4 separate regions of the Homo sapiens genome follow, and all the other regions are linked to region 4. Evidence: fine-mapped expression QTL. A gene starts in region 4. Each other region holds a variant in brackets. All regions are shown on one strand. Distances are between the middles of the regions. Region 1 overlaps LOC105369719 (a long non-coding RNA gene). Region 2 overlaps CAPRIN2 (caprin family member 2). Region 3 has its middle 70 kb from the start of IPO8. Region 4 holds the start of CAPRIN2 (caprin family member 2).

Region 1 (4,035 bases), 170 kb after region 4:
TGTTCCTTTCCATGTTTAGTGCTTCCTTCAGGAGCTCTTTTAGGGCAGGCCTGGTGGTGACAAAATCTCTCAGCATTTGCTTGTCTGTAAAGTATTTTATTTCTCCTTCACTTATGAAGCTTAGTTTGGCTGGATATGAAATTCTGGGTTGAAAATTCTTTTCTTTAAGAATGTTGAATATTGGCCCCCACTCTCTTCTGGCTTATAGAGTTTCTGCCGAGAGATCTGCTGTTAGTCTGATGGGCTTCCCTTTGTGGGTAACCCGACCTTTCTCTCTGGCTGCCCTTAACATTTTTTCCTTCATTTCAACTTTGGTGAATCTGACAATTATGTGTCTGGGAGTTGCTCTTCTCGAGGAGTATCTTTGTGGCGTTCTCTGTATTTCCTGAATCTGAATGTTGGCCTGCCTTGCTAGATTGGGGAAGTTCTCCTGCATAATATCCTGCAGAGTGTTTTCCAACTTGGTTCCATTCTCCCCATCACTTTCAGGTACACCAATGAGACGTAGATTTGGTCTTTTCACATAGTCCCATATTTCTTGGAGGCTTTGCTCATTTCTTTTTATTCTCTTTTCTCTAAACTTCCCTTCTCCTTTCATTTCATTCATTTTGTCTTCCATCACTGATACCCTTTCTTCCAGTTGATCGCATCAGCTCCTGAGGCTTGTGCATTCGTCACATAGTTCTCGAACCTTGGCTTTCAGCTCCATCAGCTCCTTTAAGGACTTCTCTGCATTGGTTATTCTAGTTATCCATTCGTCTAATTTTTTTTCAAAGTTTTTAACTTCTTTGCCATTGGTTTGAATTTCCTCCTGTAGCTCAGAGTAGTTTGATCGTCTGAAGCCTTCTTCTCTCAACTCGTCAAAGTCATTCTCCGTCCAGCTTTGTTCTGTTACTGGTGAGGAGCTGTGTTCCTTTGGAGGAAGAGAGGTGCTCTGCTTTCTAGGGTTTCCTGTTTTTCTGCTCTGTTTTTTCCCCATCTTTGTGGTTTTATCTACTTTTGGTCTTTGATGATGGTGACATACAGATGGGTTTTTGGTGTGGATGTCCTTTCTGTTTGTTAGTTTTCCTTCTAAGAGACAGGACCCTTAGCTGCAGGTCTGTTGGAGTTTGCTAGAGGTCCACTCCAGACCCTGTTTGCCTGGGTATCAGCAGCGGTGTTTGCAGAACAGTGGTTTTTCGTGAACCGCAAATGCTGCTGTCTGATCGTTCCTCTGGAAGTTTTGTCTCAGAGGAGTACCCGGCCGTGTGAAGTGTCAGTCTGCCCCTACTGGGGGGTGCCTCCCAGTTAGGCTGCTTAGGGGTCAGGGGTCAGGGACCCACTTGAGGAGGCAGTCTGCCCGTTCTCAGATCTCCAGCTGCATGCTGGGAGAACCACTGCTCTCTTCAAAGCTGTCAGACAGGGACATTTAAGTCTGCAGAGGTTACTGCTGTCTTTTTGTTTGTCTGTGCGCTGCCCCCAGAGGTGGAGCCTACAGAGGCAGGCAGGCCTCCTTGAGCTATGGTGGGCTCCACCCAGTTCGAGCTTCCCGGCTGCTTTGTTTACCTAAGCAAGCCTGGGCAATGGCGGGCGCCCCTCCCCCAGCCTGGCTGCCGCTTTGCAGTTTGATCTCAGACTGCTATGCTAGCAATTAGGGAGACTCCGTGGGCGTAGGACCCTCTGTGCCATGTGCGGGATATAATCTCCT[A/G]GTGTGCCGTTTTTTAAGCCCGTTGGAAAAGCGCAGTATTAGGGTGGGAGTGACCCGATTTTCCAGGTGCAGTCTGTCACCCCTTTCTTTGACTAGGAAAGGGAACTCCCTGACCCCTTGAACTTCCCGAGTGAGGCAATGCCTCATCCTGCTTCGGCTCACGCACGGTGCGCTGCACCCACTGTCCTGCACCCACTGTCTGGCACTCCCTAGTGAGATGAACCTGGTACCTCAGATGGAAATGCAGAAATCACCCATCTTCTGCGTCGCTCACGCTGGGAGCTGTAGATCGGAGCTGTTCCTATTTGGCCATCTTGGCTCCACCCTCATTTATCTGCCTATGGTACTTTTATAAGATCAATCTGGAAGAGGTATGAAAAAGTGTTCCTGAGATCAAAATGATTTCAGAGGGTCTTTAAAGAACTAGGTGATACTTGTAGCAATAAAGCTTTTATTAGAATAAAGATTATGCCTCATTCCTGGCAAGTAGAGAGAGGAGGATTTCATCTTTGTGTACACAAATTTGATTAGACTAAAAAGCCATAAAAGTTTGGCATCTGTCTTGCTGTAACTAAATGAATTAGAAATATAAATTTTTGGACCAAAAGCTACAGTTTGCTGAGCCATCATTCTTTTATTTTATTTTAAACAATTTGATGCTGCTAGGTAGTACCCAAATAGAAGGTTTTGGAATTAAGGAGCAAAAGTGCTGAGCTGGGTATTTAGTAACTACCACAGGCAAAGAGGCTTGCATTAGGCTTTTAGCAGAGCGCATTGTCTGATTGGTGTCTCAGCAGTGTTGGTACCATCCTCTATTTAACTGACCTTGAAAACAGAAAATTCAACTAGATTTTATGGAGGGCTTATATATACTCAAGTGCTGTCAGGGTAGATAGAAGTCTATGAGATGAAGACCCAATGCTTAAAAAATCTATAGCACATTAGATTCTAGCCACTCCTATCTACTGAAGTAATTCTGCAATTCTCATGCCTTTTTATGACAGTTCTGGGGGATCAGTCCCATGCTGGAATGCTCAATAAAGAATTATAAGCATGCTAGATGGCAGAGAATGCCAACTTATTACAAAGACTTGCTGCAGTATTCCACAAAAAAGTATGATGCGTGGATGAGAATGATGATATCCCATTTCTATGAATTAAATAGAAGGGGAGCATTATAACTGTTTTGCAAATGAGGAGACTGAGTCAGACAGAGGCTAGAAGGATCTGCCTAGACATACTAGTAATAAGTATTTAGTAAAGGCTTTCACCTGCAGCTTTTTTTCTTCTTAAGATTCTGGTCATGAGTATCTTCTTTTCTATTACAAAATCTTTGTTCATCAGGCTGTATGGAAGATTATTTTTCAGCAAATTTCCAGTCCTTCCCTTGCCTCAACCTCTATGGGTACCTTCTCTCCTTGGTGCACGTGCTTGACTTTGGGCTTAGCCACCTGGATTGCCTTAGCCAATGGGATGACCACAGATGTGAGCAGAAGCTTAGAATGTGCTTGCATATTTAGGTGTGGTCTCTTGAGCTCTTGTCTTTCACTATGAACAGAATATGCTGTGAGTACTGCTAATCTAAGAAAGACAAGAGACGTGGAAAGGCCTGGGCCCAGCCATGGAGTTAGGAGTCAGGCCCAGCCAAGCCTAGCCCAGATTAGCCAAACCTACAAGTCAGTAAGTGAGTGAGTAATAGATGGCTGCAAACCACTGAAATTTCCAGGTTGTTTTGTTAAATACCCTTGTTTTGGTCATACGAAATTAATACATACTTTTGTAAAGGTGCAACATAGTTATGGGTAGCACATTGCAGCACACAATGCTCATGTACTACATACACTGGAAACAGAATGAGAATGGAGGAGCCTTGATGAAATGAATGACTTGAAGAAATGGCACAGGACTGGAAATCAGAAGACTTGGGTTGTCGTGAGGTTTCGACCTTCTATTCTTATGAAGTTTTGACTCTGTGTCAGGTGTGTTTCTAGCAGTTTTAACTCATCCAATTCTCATAACAATTGTTTGAGGTAAGTGCATTATTATTCCCACTTTAAGGTTGAGGAAATTGAGGCACAGAAGGATTAAGAAACTAACCAAGATCTCATAGCGAGTAAGTAGCTGAACTGACCTTGGTACCAGACAGTGTCATGGATGCCTCATGCGCCACCCAGATTTCCTGTTCAGAACTGAAGTGCTCACTCCTTCAGCCTCTGGGAGAGCTGGCTCCTGGTGGCTGTCAGGTGTGTCCCTCTCTGGACATTGTTCTTGACCAAAGGGAGCTGCCTTGCCCAAAGTTAGATCCTTTATTGGGGTTAGCCCATAACCAATATCTGGTCAATGTGTGG
Region 2 (4,035 bases), 35 kb after region 4:
CAGTCTCCTTCCTAAAAAGCAACATATCATAATGCCTCCTTCAAGAAGGTCACTGAAACATGATTTCTCTGTTTTGTAACCCTTCATTAGTTTCCAGTTCACCTATTTTATTACTTGGGCTTCTGAGAACCACATAGAAGCATTTAGATAAAAGGAGTGGATTCACTGACACTTTAGATCTTGCTATTGCCAGATTTTTATGGGTGTCTCTCTGCTGTATTTGAATACCTGTTGTGCGATAGAATTCTTTCCTAGCCACTCTTTTAATTTTCTGTTGGTTACAGTTGTCACAACTTTTTTTCCTAATGTGCTTTCTCCCAATTTTTATTTTACATATGCTATCAGCTTGATTTTTCACTAGAATTTTTGGTGCCATTCTGATTTATGTAGAGCTTATTCTTCCTATTTATATTTCAGCCTGCCTCTTTAGGATGCTGATAGCACTTAGCATGAAAGCACAGTTATACTATGATCTCTGGCAGAGCTGTGCCTACAGTGTTAAACGTACCCGGAGCTCACCTTCCCGTGAATGCTATCTACTACAGGGCCAAGAATCAGTGAACATGGGATGAGATGTGTAGTTTTGGTGACCAGGCCTGGACAGGCAGTGTAGCTAGCTGGCTGCTTGAGTTTGAATCTCAGCTCTGCCACTTAATTGTAGTATGATCTTGGGCAAATGTCTTAACCTTTCTTTGCCACTGCTTAATTGTCAATAAAATGAGAATAGTACCTACCTCACAGATTACTGTTAGGATTAAATATATTAACACGTATAAAGTGTTTAGCAGAGTGCTTGACACATGTGCGTGTTCAGTAAGAGTAACATATTAGGAAGGCCAGGGCCCAAGAAATATAAAGTGAACAAAATGTGCCTTTTACAATATTTTGTATTTTCCTGTGTCTAGGCTACTTCTTCTCCAGTTACTTGTAGCTCAAATGCTTGCTTGGTTACTACCGATCAGGCTTCTTCTGGATCTGAAACAGAGTTTATGACCTCAGAGACTCCTGAGGTAAAAGACCAATTGTCTTAATTTCTTTTGTATCTTAAAGAATAGCAGAACCAGTTTATCTTATGAATTACAGGCATGATTAGTTGAATGATGTAACATTTATACTTTATTAATGTATTGCTTTCTATAGATATTGTGATCTTGGAACTTTTACAGGTAACTTTATTGTAGCTTTGCCATATAAATAGATTTAATATGGTATTGCCTTATCTAGTGCAATAAATGTCCATTTTTAATCTAAAAAAATGAAAAGTGTAGGTAGCATTAAGTCAAGTTTTCCACTATATTTACACTGAAGGACTTTTAGGAGAAAAGTCTCTTATTTGTATAAATGAAAGCTCAATAACTTTATTTTATTAATATTAGCACTTATTGAGTTGGAATGAGTTACAATCTTGTTTTGGCTAACTTTGTCAAAAATATTTTCGGTCAGATGCAGTGGCTCACACCTGCAATCCCAGCACTTTGGGAGGCCGAGGCAGGTGGATCACTTGAGGTCAGGAGTTCAAGACCAGCCTGGCCAACATGGTGAAGCCCCATCTCTACTAAAAATACAAAAATTAGCTGGGTGTGGTGGCTCATGCCTCTAGTCCCAGGTACTCAGGAGGCCGAGGACAGAGAATTGCTTGAACCCAGGAGGCGGGGGTTGCAGAGATTGTGCCACTGCACTTCAGCCTGGGTGACAAAGTGATACTTCATCTCAAAAAAAATAAATAAA[TAAAA/A]ACATTTTAACAGTATTATGTTTGTGCTTTCAATTTCAATTCTAAGTTACAGTTTTTACTAAGTTTGAGTAAATCCTTGAGATGGACATAGTAGGATGAATTTTGAGGAGTAATTTAGCAACTATCAGGTATTTTTTGTTAACTGTTATAGAAGAATATGTATTCATTATAGAATATAAGAAAATATAGATAATCCTTAGTTTTTATGGTGCTGGCTTGATCTGAATTTAAATTATCTCATTCCTCATTTTAAGAAGAGGAAGAAGTGATTGTTACCAAGTAACTCACAGCTGTCTGCTTCACAATCTAGTTGAGATTGGTTTTTGGTATTTTTTTTAAGCCTTTGGATTTATAATCTGTTATGTCAAGAACTTGTGGCTTCCTTAGGTAAGGATTACTTAAATTGGATCGGAGTTGTTTTCTGTTTTAGGTAGCTGACTTAGAAACCTACTAACTAATAAGTCTTTAAAATAGAGAAAAATTAACACTAAACAACTAATCCAAGTTTTTTCTTAAATCCAATTCTGATGTATAAATTTTGAATAATATTAGGTTCTTAACTGGAAATTACCATTTCAGGGTTTGAAAAGGACTAGGTGCGTATAAAAAGTTCAGCCCCTCATCTGTTAGACTGATTATTGGTAAGACTCTTTCACTTAGTCAGCAAGCTGTGCAAAGCAAATACTGGTATGCATCCTCAGCAATTGAGATTTGAAATTGTAAGCAAAAGCTATTCTTTTGCATTCCTGTGTCCAAATGTCATCCTAAAGAACTTGCTGACTTATGCCAGTTTGGGTTTTAGAGTAAGTTAACTGCTTGTTATATGGCAGGTGATTGGCTGATGCTGCATTTCTCCTCCCCAGGCAGCAATTCCCCCAGGCAAGCAACCGTCTTCACTAGCTTCTCCAAATCCTCCCATGGCAAAGGGCTCTGAACAGGGCTTCCAGTCACCTCCAGCAAGTAGTAGTTCAGTAACCATTAACACAGCACCCTTTCAAGCCATGCAGACAGTGAGTATGAAACATGAATGATGATTGCAGTTCATTATTCCTGTTAAAAGCCATTGTTTCTCTTACATAATTATTGGATACTATGTGAAAAGTTTGCCTTTTGTAAAATTTATTTGGGTTGGTAGAATTATATTTGGCCAATGGCAGTACTTGTTTGTGGCAGAAGAATAGGAAATCCACAGCCTCTAGAATTTTAAATGGGTGTTTTATCAGAGCATTATTCCTTCTTTTAGAATTAGTAGCAGGCAAAGCTGAGGATCCATATTAAACAAACAAAATGTGTGGGTGAGAAACAGAATTTCTAGCAACAGCTTAATAATACTAACCATTACTAATATCTTTACTAGTATTATTCCCTAACATCAGTAACCTGAAATACCGGACACATACTTGGGTGTTCTGTCATTGCTGAAACTTTCATTTTATTTTATCCTGATCTCAAGATGGTTTTTGGAGATTTGTTCAGATTTGTGTGGTGTTTTGAATTACGTATTTTTCTACAAATTGCAATTAAGGCTTTTTAAAAAAATAATATTACAGCTAGTTTGGTATGTTTATTCTCTAAACACAGACTAGTATAAAACAGTTCTTTGTGGGGGAAAAAAGCCTTAGTGAGCCAATAAGTACCCTTCCTATTGGTGCTTAGTGTCCCACTCCAAGCACTTCGGAGTGATGGTGGTAGTGGGGCCAGTGGAGTAGCATGGAAAGCAGGCACCACCCCGGGAGATCGGCTGGTGAGTCCAGACAGCTGAATTCACTCACCTGATCACTTAGAATATCTTATTTCTAGATAGAATAGTTCCTTGCTTTCACTCTTTTCCTGTCAGTTCATCCTGCACAGTATAGCCACATTGGTTTTACCTTTTCTTTTGTCTAATTAAAAGCAAGCAGTGTTCCATTACAGAATGAAATTTAGTACTCTGACACTCAGTACCTTTTCAAGTCTGTTATAACCTGTCACACTAGTCCCCTGAGCTTGCCTTATATATTCTTGTCACAGTACCTTTTGCTCATGCCAATCTGTTTTCTCTGCCTGTTTGAATCCTACCCGGTACACATTGGTTCTTACTCATTTATTGATTAAAGAATAGTTACAAAACCAGGCACTGTTCTTAATCACTGAGGTTGTAGCAGTGAAAAAAGGAAAGTATGCTCAGGAAACTTAACATTTTAGTATGGAGGTAGGAGGGCTAGGGAGACAAATACCTGTATATCAGGTGCTGTGTGATGTAAAGAAAAATGGAGCAGAATCAGGGAGCTAGAGAGTCATAGAAGGACAGATCGTTGCTTGCC
Region 3 (4,035 bases), 130 kb after region 4:
CCTTCCTGTGTCCATGTGATCTCATTGTTCAATTCCCAGCTATGAGTGAGAATATGCGGTGTTTGGTTTTTTGTTCTTGCGATAGGAAAACAGTTATTTTAAATTGTCATTAAGTAATATAATGAATTATAGTACAGTTTTCTGTTTAGCAAGGGAGACTGAATAATCCAGGCATAAAAGGGAAACTTGGCCATGTATTAGGACCATGTGCGTGCAAGTGTGTGTATGCATGAATGTTTCGTGCATTAAAAATTATTCCAGATGAGCCTTAAATAGCAGTCTTTTCTGTTCCACCTTACTCTCTCCGTTGAGACTGCTGTACAAATGCTGCCTGGGTGGATTGGGAAATTTCTAGGCAGTCTGCTAGCAAGAAAGGCTGCAAAATCAATAAATAAAGAGATGGCTTATACTCTGTAGATAGACTATGTTTGAGGAAGAAGCACAAAGGGCAACTATGGCTGTCTCACTTTGTTGCCCAGGCTGGAATGCAATGGTGCGATCACAATTCACTGCAGCTTGATTTCATGGGGTCAAGTGAGTGATTCTACATTAGCTTCCTGAGTAGCTGGGAGTACAGGCAAGCACCACCATGCTTGGCTATTTTTTAAATTTTTTGTAGAGACAGGGACTCAATATGTTGCCCAGGCTTGTCTCGAACTCCTGGCCTTGAACTATCTTTCCACCCTGGCCTCACAAAGAGCTGGAATTGGAAGTGTGAGGCCACCTGGCCACCCTAAGTAATTTGGCCCTTCCTCAGCTATCTCACTGTGTGCAACTTCTTGGAAAGTACGCTCCAGTTGCCTTTTTTCACTGCCTCCAATTCAGTGGTTTCTTCTTCCAATTGGTCCCTGGGCTTTTCTTTGATTGAAAGTTTTAAATTACTGATTCAGTCTCCTTATTTGTTATTGATCTGTTCAGGCTTTCTATTTCTTCTTGATTCAATCTTGGTAGCTTGTATGTTTCTAGGAATTTACTCATTTCTTCTAGGTTGTCCAATGTGTTAACATGTAATTGTTCATATTAGTTCCTTTTAAAAATTTCTTTGGCATTGGTTATATCTCCTATTTCTGATTTTATCTTATTTTTTCCTAGTTTAGTTAAGGGTTTGTTGATTTTGATTATCTTTTTTAAAAAACTTTTCAGTTTGTCGATTTTTCTTTTGTTTTCTGGTCTTCATTTATTTCTGCTCTAGTCTTTATTATTTCCTTCTTTCTGCTAGTTTTGGGCTTATTTCTTTTTCTAGTTCCTTCAGGTATGATGTTAGGTTGTTTGAGATCTTTTTTAATGTAGACATTTATACACTTTTTTAATGTAGACATTTATACACTTCCATTTCAGCACTGCTTTTGCCGCCTCCCATAAGTTTTGGCATGTTATGTTTTTGTTTGTCTCACAATATCTTCTAATTTTTAAAATTTCTTCTTTGACCCAATGGTTGAATATATTGTTTAGTTTCCATGTATTTGTGAATTTTTCCAGTTTTCTTTTATTGATTTCTAGTTTCATTTCTTTGTAGTCAAAAAAGATAATTGAAATTATTTCAGTCTTCTTAAATTTGTCAGAACTTGTTTTGTGACCTTGCATGTAATCTATCTTGGAGAATCTTTCATGTGCAGTTGAGAGGAATTTTTATTCTGCTGCCGTTAGGTAGAAGGTTCCGTACATGTCTGTTAGCTCCATTTGGCCTATAGTGTTATTCAAAACCACTGTTTCTTTATTTCTCTAATGTCTGGATGAACTATTATTGAAAGTGGGGTATTGAAGTCTCCTAATACATTCTACTCCTATTTCTCCCTTC[A/G]TATTTATCAATGTGTGCTTTATATATATAGGCGCTCTGATGTTGGGTGCATATATAATTGTTACGTCTTCCTGTTGAATTGACCCTTTTATCATTATGTAATGACCTTCTTTGTCTCTTGTGACAGTTTTTGACTTGAAGTCTTTTTGTCTAATATAAGAAAAGCTGCTTACGCTCTGTTTTGGTGACCATTTGCATGATATATCTTGTTTCATCCCTTCACTTTCAGCCTACGTGTGTCCTTAAAGCTAAAGTGAGTCTTTTGTAGACACCCTATAATTAGATCTTGCTTTTTAATCCATTCAGCTACTCTGTATCTTTGATTGGGGAATTTAATACATTTACATTTAAAGAAATTATTGATTGGTAAGAACTGACTACTGCCATTTTGTTCATTGGTTTCTGTTTTGTGGTTCTTTTGTTCCTCTCTTCCCCTCTTGCTGTCTTTGTGATTTGATAATTTTTTATGGTTATATACTCGGATTCTTTTCCCTTTCTTGTATCTGCTGAAGATTTTTTCTTTGTAGTTACTGTGAAGCTTGCATAACCCTCCTTAGAATTGTACCAGTCTATTTTGAGCTGATAACTTCAATCACATACAAAAACTACACTTTTACTCTCCCATTCCCCAGTTTGTTATTGATGTCAGAATTTGCTTTTTATGTTGTGTATCCATTAACCAATATTTTGTGGTTATATTCTTAATACTTTTGTCTTTTATGCTGGGGTTAAAAGTGATTTATGCACCACCATTACAATATTACATTATTCTGTATTTGTCTATGTATTTACCCTTAGCAGTGAGATTTATACTTTCATATGCTTTTGTGTTGCTATTTAGCAAGAAGCTGATTTTTTTATTAATACAAATTATGTACTTTTTTCAAAATAAAGAATTTGTTGTATGTATGTATTACACACAGATTTCCAAACCAGATAACCCAGTGTTGGCCAATCGCAGTAATCAAAACTACAAATTTAATTTCATAATTTTTAGCTCCTTGCAGCTGCTGCTGTCAGACAACCCTCAGCTGGGTGGTGTCAGGATTGGTAGCATTTTCAAATAAAACAAGAAATTTAACATCAATAGGTACCAGCAAGAAGTGTTTATTTCTTCATGAGGGTGTTGTGTACTTCGGGGGAATAAGACCAATTTTCATTTTGGTAGTTAAATGGGTTGCATTTGAAACCTTTGCTGTGAGGCACCATATTTCCAATGAGTGAAGTTTTAGACTCTTTACATTTGGTACCACAAGTACCATTAATGGGGTTGTGGCTGGGCAGTATAGTCAAGTGATTCTCTGAAGGCAGAAATAAATAAGCAGATCGTTTACTTTTTCAGTATAACTCCACTTGTTAGGCTTTTAGCCTCTTCTTTCAACATAGGTTTAATAAATAGGGAATAATCTTAACTAGCCACCACTGCCAGGTGGTGCTACTTCCCTTTCTGCTGTTTCATGATCCCACCACACTGTGTTAATCCTCACCAGTGGTTGTCCTGTGATTGGCTGCTGTATTATAGGCTGCGGTAAGCAGAATAGTGACTCCCGAACCACGACCCCCAAACACGCAAAGATGTCTACGTCCTAATCCTTGGAAACTGTAAAAATGTAACTTTACATGGCAAAGGGGAATTAAGATTCCAGATAGAATTCAGTTTGCTAATCAGCTGATCTTAAAACAGGGAGAGTATCCTGGGTTATCTACATGCACCCAATGTAATCATGGAGTTTCTTAAAAGTGGGAGAGGGAGGCAGAAGAGAAGGCTGGAGTGACAAGATTTGAGGACTGAGTCCATTATTGCTGATTTTGAAGACGGAGGAAGGGCACGGTGAGCCAACAAATGCAGGCAGCCTTTAGAAGCTGGAAAAGGCAAGGAAACAGTCTCCTAGAGTCTCCAGGATGAAATGTCGACCTACCAACACCTTCATTTTAGCCCAGTGAGACCCATCTAGGACTGCTGACCTCTAGAACTGTAAGACGATACATTTGTAGGTTGTAAGCCATTACGTTAGTGGTAATTTGTTACAGCAACAATAGAAAGTAAATATACAGACTGGTGGAGGACAGATGCAGGAGAATTCTCATCTTTGAAGACTGAAGTATTGATTAATATTTTGGGCTGGACATTTAAATTTCTAAATCAAGATTATGTTTTACAAATATTAAGTGATTTTGAGGCTTGTTTCCTAAGCATGATCAGAAAATCCTCAGGTCTGCTAGGGATTGTTATCTAA
Region 4 (4,035 bases):
GTAAACATCTGTTGAATGAATAAATGAATATATTCTTCTATCAATGATTCGAGACAACACTTTTTATCATATTTCCAATATAGTTATTCCTTGCTAAGCTTGGAGGTGGCATGCCACAGATACTGCCTCACAGTTGGCAAGAAAAGTCACGGTCTTACAGAAAATAGGGAGTGGGAGAGGGTAAAATAAACTAAACTCCTGACAAATAAAAGTTTTGGGGACATGTGCTTTCAAAGTAAGCCAGACTTACTGACTTTAAAGATCTCCTCTAGCAGAAAAGCTTTTATCTGAATCATCTTTTTAACTTGTTCAGAAGACATTGCTTCAAGAGTATCTACTGTGGTATGTTCTCCTACAAATGTCACGCCATACGTATACAGACTGTACCCTACTGGACTTGAAATTCAATTATTTTTGCTTTTGCATTCTTTCGTGATGCATTTTTATAATCCTTCCTGAGAAGTAAATCTGTATGGATTTATTCATTTAGAAGAATATCCATTTAGTAGAAAATTTAAAATTTACGGCCTCCTTTTTGCCTGACCGATTAGAAGGCAAACATTTCTTTCTTTCTTTCTTTTTTTGAGATAGAGTCTTGCTCTGTCACCCAGGCTGGAGTGCAGCGGCACAATCTCGGCTCACTGCAGCGTCCGTCTCCGGGTTTCAAGCGATTCTCCTGCCTTAGCCTCTGAGTAGCCATGATTACAGGCACATGCCGCCATGCTCGGCTAATTTTTGTATTTTTAGTAGAGATGGATATTCACCACGCTGGCCAGCCTGGCCTCGAACTCCCGACCTCAGGTGATCCACCCCGCCTCGGCCTCCCAAAGTGCTGGGATCACAGGCTTGAGCCACTGCGCCGGCAGGGGGCAAACATTTCATGATTAATCTGACTGAAATACCATTTTTAGGTTCATCATTAGCTCGGACTACAACTCAGGCTGTGCTGTAACTTTGTGTCAACTCATTGATCCAACAGTGTGTCCTTCACATTTTTTCTTATGGCCACTGTTTTTTGTGTTACCAAAGGTGAAGGCATAGCCTTCCTCTCCTCATGTTCAGCATCTTCTGCGTTTCTCTGTTTATAAACAATGAGAAAAAGGGAAAATCTAGTATTTCTCTGACCCTGAAGAACACATATGGGATTCAGAGATTCAAAGTTAAAATGCAACATTAGGGTACATTATGTCACCAGGGACCGAAAAGAACACGGATAATAGATGCCAAAAAAATGTATTAAGTAATGTTAAAATTAATTTGTGTGAAGTTGACCAAGGCTTTTAAAACTAGACCTTTGTTTCCTTGATTCTTCTTCTGAATTTTCTGTTCTTTTGCTAGTCTCAATATTTTTTATCAGAGCGTCAGGGACAATCAGGACCTAAAAAACTCCACTTGGTGTAATAAGTAAACACATGTTGGGGCAAAGTATTGCTGAGTGTGTGTGTGTGTTTCTTATTTGGTATCAGAAACACCTTCCTTTCCTCAATAAACTTTTACATATTTCCAGACTTTTCTCTTAATTTTATGTAACCTTACAAAGATTTTTTACAGCTTTCTCTGCGTGCCAGTCAATTAATGTGTGTCACATGAACAAATAATACGGCTTGAATAAACTCAATCCTATTATTGCAGGTTGCGAAGTCACCTACTCCGTTTTTATGGCGATGCTGATTTGGGGCATTCTGCTCTTACAGGCTGATTCCCCGGTAAGGAAACGGTGTTTTTTCCCCATCCTACTATGAAAGATGCTATCTGAGGGGCAAAGGCGCATCTGCATTTCACGACTACCCACTAGGCTACGACAGCCTCAAGCATGGCTTATCTGGTAGTTCCGCGAAGGGCTCGCTGCCCTCCTGGAGCTATTGGAGTCACCTGTTCAAGGTCGCGAAACCACCGGTGCCGCCGGCAATCAGCGAGGTCCAGCGGGGCTGCGCGGTTTCCGGCCTGCCGGCGTTCGGCGTCGCCTCGGCCCCACCTGGTGCCCCGCAATCTGCGCAAAGGCTGGGAGACCGCGCCCTCTCCCGACCTACCACCAGCCCAAGCTGGGCCCGGAACTAACACCCGACAAGCGCTGGCGGCCAGCTGCAGCCGGGAAGGAGCACCGGAAGGAGGCGGTGGCGGGGCGGCCGAGGGCGGAGCGGGCCGGGGCGGGGCGCGGCCTACAAAAGCCACGCGCGGCGCGGTGGGCGGGCCTGGGCGCGAGCGGCTGAGTCGGCTGGGTCTCTGGCGCCGCAGAGGCCGCGGGCGAGGACCGGGAGGGGAGAGGGAGGAGACAGGAGGAGGAGACGCGAGTGCGGGGTGGCGCCGGTCCACCTCCGCAGCGCTCCTGCCTCCCCCAGGCTTTGGAAGGCGGGCCCGGGCTGCGGCAGCGGCGGCCTCGGCTGCCTGGGGAGGTGAAGTCGGGCTGCGGCGGCCTCGGTCGGCGCGGCGGAGGGAGGCGGCTGACCCGGCGAGGGTGGGCAGGTCTGGGCGGCCGGCGCCGCTGCGAGGTGGAGGGGCGGCTTGGCATCCCCGGGGCGGGGCGGGGCTCCCGAGGGCCGCGGTCGGTGCGTTTTCCGCAGGTCAGCCTCCCCCGGGGCCTTGCAGAAGCGGCTTCTGCGTACCCGGGGCGGCTGTGGGAAGGGTGGGGGTCGGTGCCTGCAGGGCTCTCCGTGGCCGCTCGGGAGAGGTGCTCTTCGCTCAGGCTCCCCCGGAGACTTGAGGGGGTGCGCGCTGGCGTGCATGGGGCCTGTTCTGTCCTTGGTTTGGGGATGCTCCTAAGGGGGGAGAAAGGGATACCTCGGGTGCTTGGAGGTCGAGAGACGGATACGTAAGTGCGCAAGGGCCACTGATTAGGGCACGGGAAGGGCTCGCTAGAATGAGCTCTTAAACTGGTTGGGTGTAAGCGGTTTTGGGCTAGTCTAAACCAAACAACTGAGAATAAACGCGGGGTTCCTGCAGGTTGAGAGAGTACCTGTCTGCAAATGTCCAGTAGTGATGGATTGCCTTGTAGGCCCCAGAGCAATCGGGGAAGTTAGCATTCTTGTTCAAGAAGCTGCTGGTTCACTTAGAGCTATAAAAGAATGTTGTGAGTTTGGATTTTCTTCCAAACGTTCAGGATTGAGGTTAGGGCTGGTGGTGAGGGATCATGTAAAGAGGTTTGAGTGGCTCAGCCTTAGGTCCCGGTGTGGAAAGCTTATTCTTTTGGTGTCATCACGTGGCCATGGGAATTATTTAGAATGTGATCTGCCCTCATGAGAAGAAAGGAGCTCTGAAGCCGTTGCAGTTCTTCCTCCCTATGTGGAAAATCGAATTTCTGGAAACATCCTCCGTATTGGGAGATTTTGCCTATGTAAAGGCTATCCTTATTGGCTAGCGGCACTAATTACTTTAAAAGTAGGATGGAAGTACAAGTATCTCAAGCATCATTGGGTTTCGAGCTCACTTCTGTGGAAAAGAGTTTAAGGGAGTGGTCTAGACTTTCCAGGGAAGTTATTGCCTGGCTGTGTCCCTCTAGTCCTAATTTTATACTTAACTTTCCCCCACCTCCTTCAGCCTCATCTGTTTCAATGGTGCAACTCTTTTCATCCCCTTTTGGTTACCAGTCACCTTCAGGCCATTCAGAGGAGGAAAGAGAGGGGAATATGAAGTCAGCCAAGCCCCAAGTGAACCACAGTCAGCATGGGGAAAGCCAGCGGGCCTTGAGCCCCCTGCAGTCTACTCTGAGTTCTGCTGCATCTCCTTCCCAAGCGTATGAGACCTATATTGAAAATGGACTCATATGCCTTAAACACAAAATTAGAAACATCGAGAAAAAGAAGGTAACTTTTTTTCTTCCAGTCCTGTAGATGCATGATCTTAAAGATTAAGGAGCTGACATTTTTCTTTCAGAGCTCATAGGTGTTCTCTACTAAAAATTTAACTAACCTTAGGTTTAGCTGCTTTAAACAAGCAGGTTACGTGTTGGAAATATTAAACATTTTCTGTTTCATTTGTCAAAACAACGGAATAAAAATATTCTTCATAGTTACATTATGCATGCTGCTGTTGAAATAC

The links. PIP is the estimated chance that this variant, and not a neighbour inherited with it, causes the effect.
Region 1: its variant is the best candidate, but not a certain one, in a credible set for the expression of CAPRIN2 in whole blood (TOPMed, PIP 0.64).
Region 2: its variant is the best candidate, but not a certain one, in a credible set for the expression of CAPRIN2 in whole blood (INTERVAL, PIP 0.79).
Region 3: its variant is the best candidate, but not a certain one, in a credible set for the expression of CAPRIN2 in whole blood (TOPMed, PIP 0.71).

What each region holds. Positions count from the first base shown.
Region 1 is chr12:30,586,334-30,590,368 of GRCh38, reverse strand. The region is part of intron 1 of LOC105369719 (a long non-coding RNA gene); the gene reads left to right. Among named protein-coding and RNA genes, the nearest start is that of IPO8, 110 kb to the left of the region's middle. The variant A/G (reference allele first, on the strand shown) is at 1,688.
Region 2 is chr12:30,717,786-30,721,820 of GRCh38, reverse strand. It overlaps CAPRIN2 (caprin family member 2), which reads left to right. Exons shown (of 19, transcript NM_001385503.1): 13 at 906-1,010; 14 at 2,596-2,742. Among named protein-coding and RNA genes, the nearest start is that of IPO8, 24 kb to the right of the region's middle. The variant TAAAA/A (reference allele first, on the strand shown) is at 1,729.
Region 3 is chr12:30,623,427-30,627,461 of GRCh38, reverse strand. No RefSeq gene overlaps it. Among named protein-coding and RNA genes, the nearest start is that of IPO8, 70 kb to the left of the region's middle. The variant A/G (reference allele first, on the strand shown) is at 1,799.
Region 4 is chr12:30,753,109-30,757,143 of GRCh38, reverse strand. It overlaps CAPRIN2 (caprin family member 2), which reads left to right and starts at 2,193. Exons shown (of 19, transcript NM_001385503.1): 1 at 2,193-2,393; 2 at 3,585-3,800. The coding sequence starts at 3,624. It overlaps LOC645485 (a long non-coding RNA gene), which reads right to left and starts at 2,070. Exons shown (of 2, transcript NR_135046.1): 1 at 1,873-2,070. RefSeq lists silencers at 665-868, 1,960-2,639 and enhancers at 2,567-2,736, 2,740-2,819.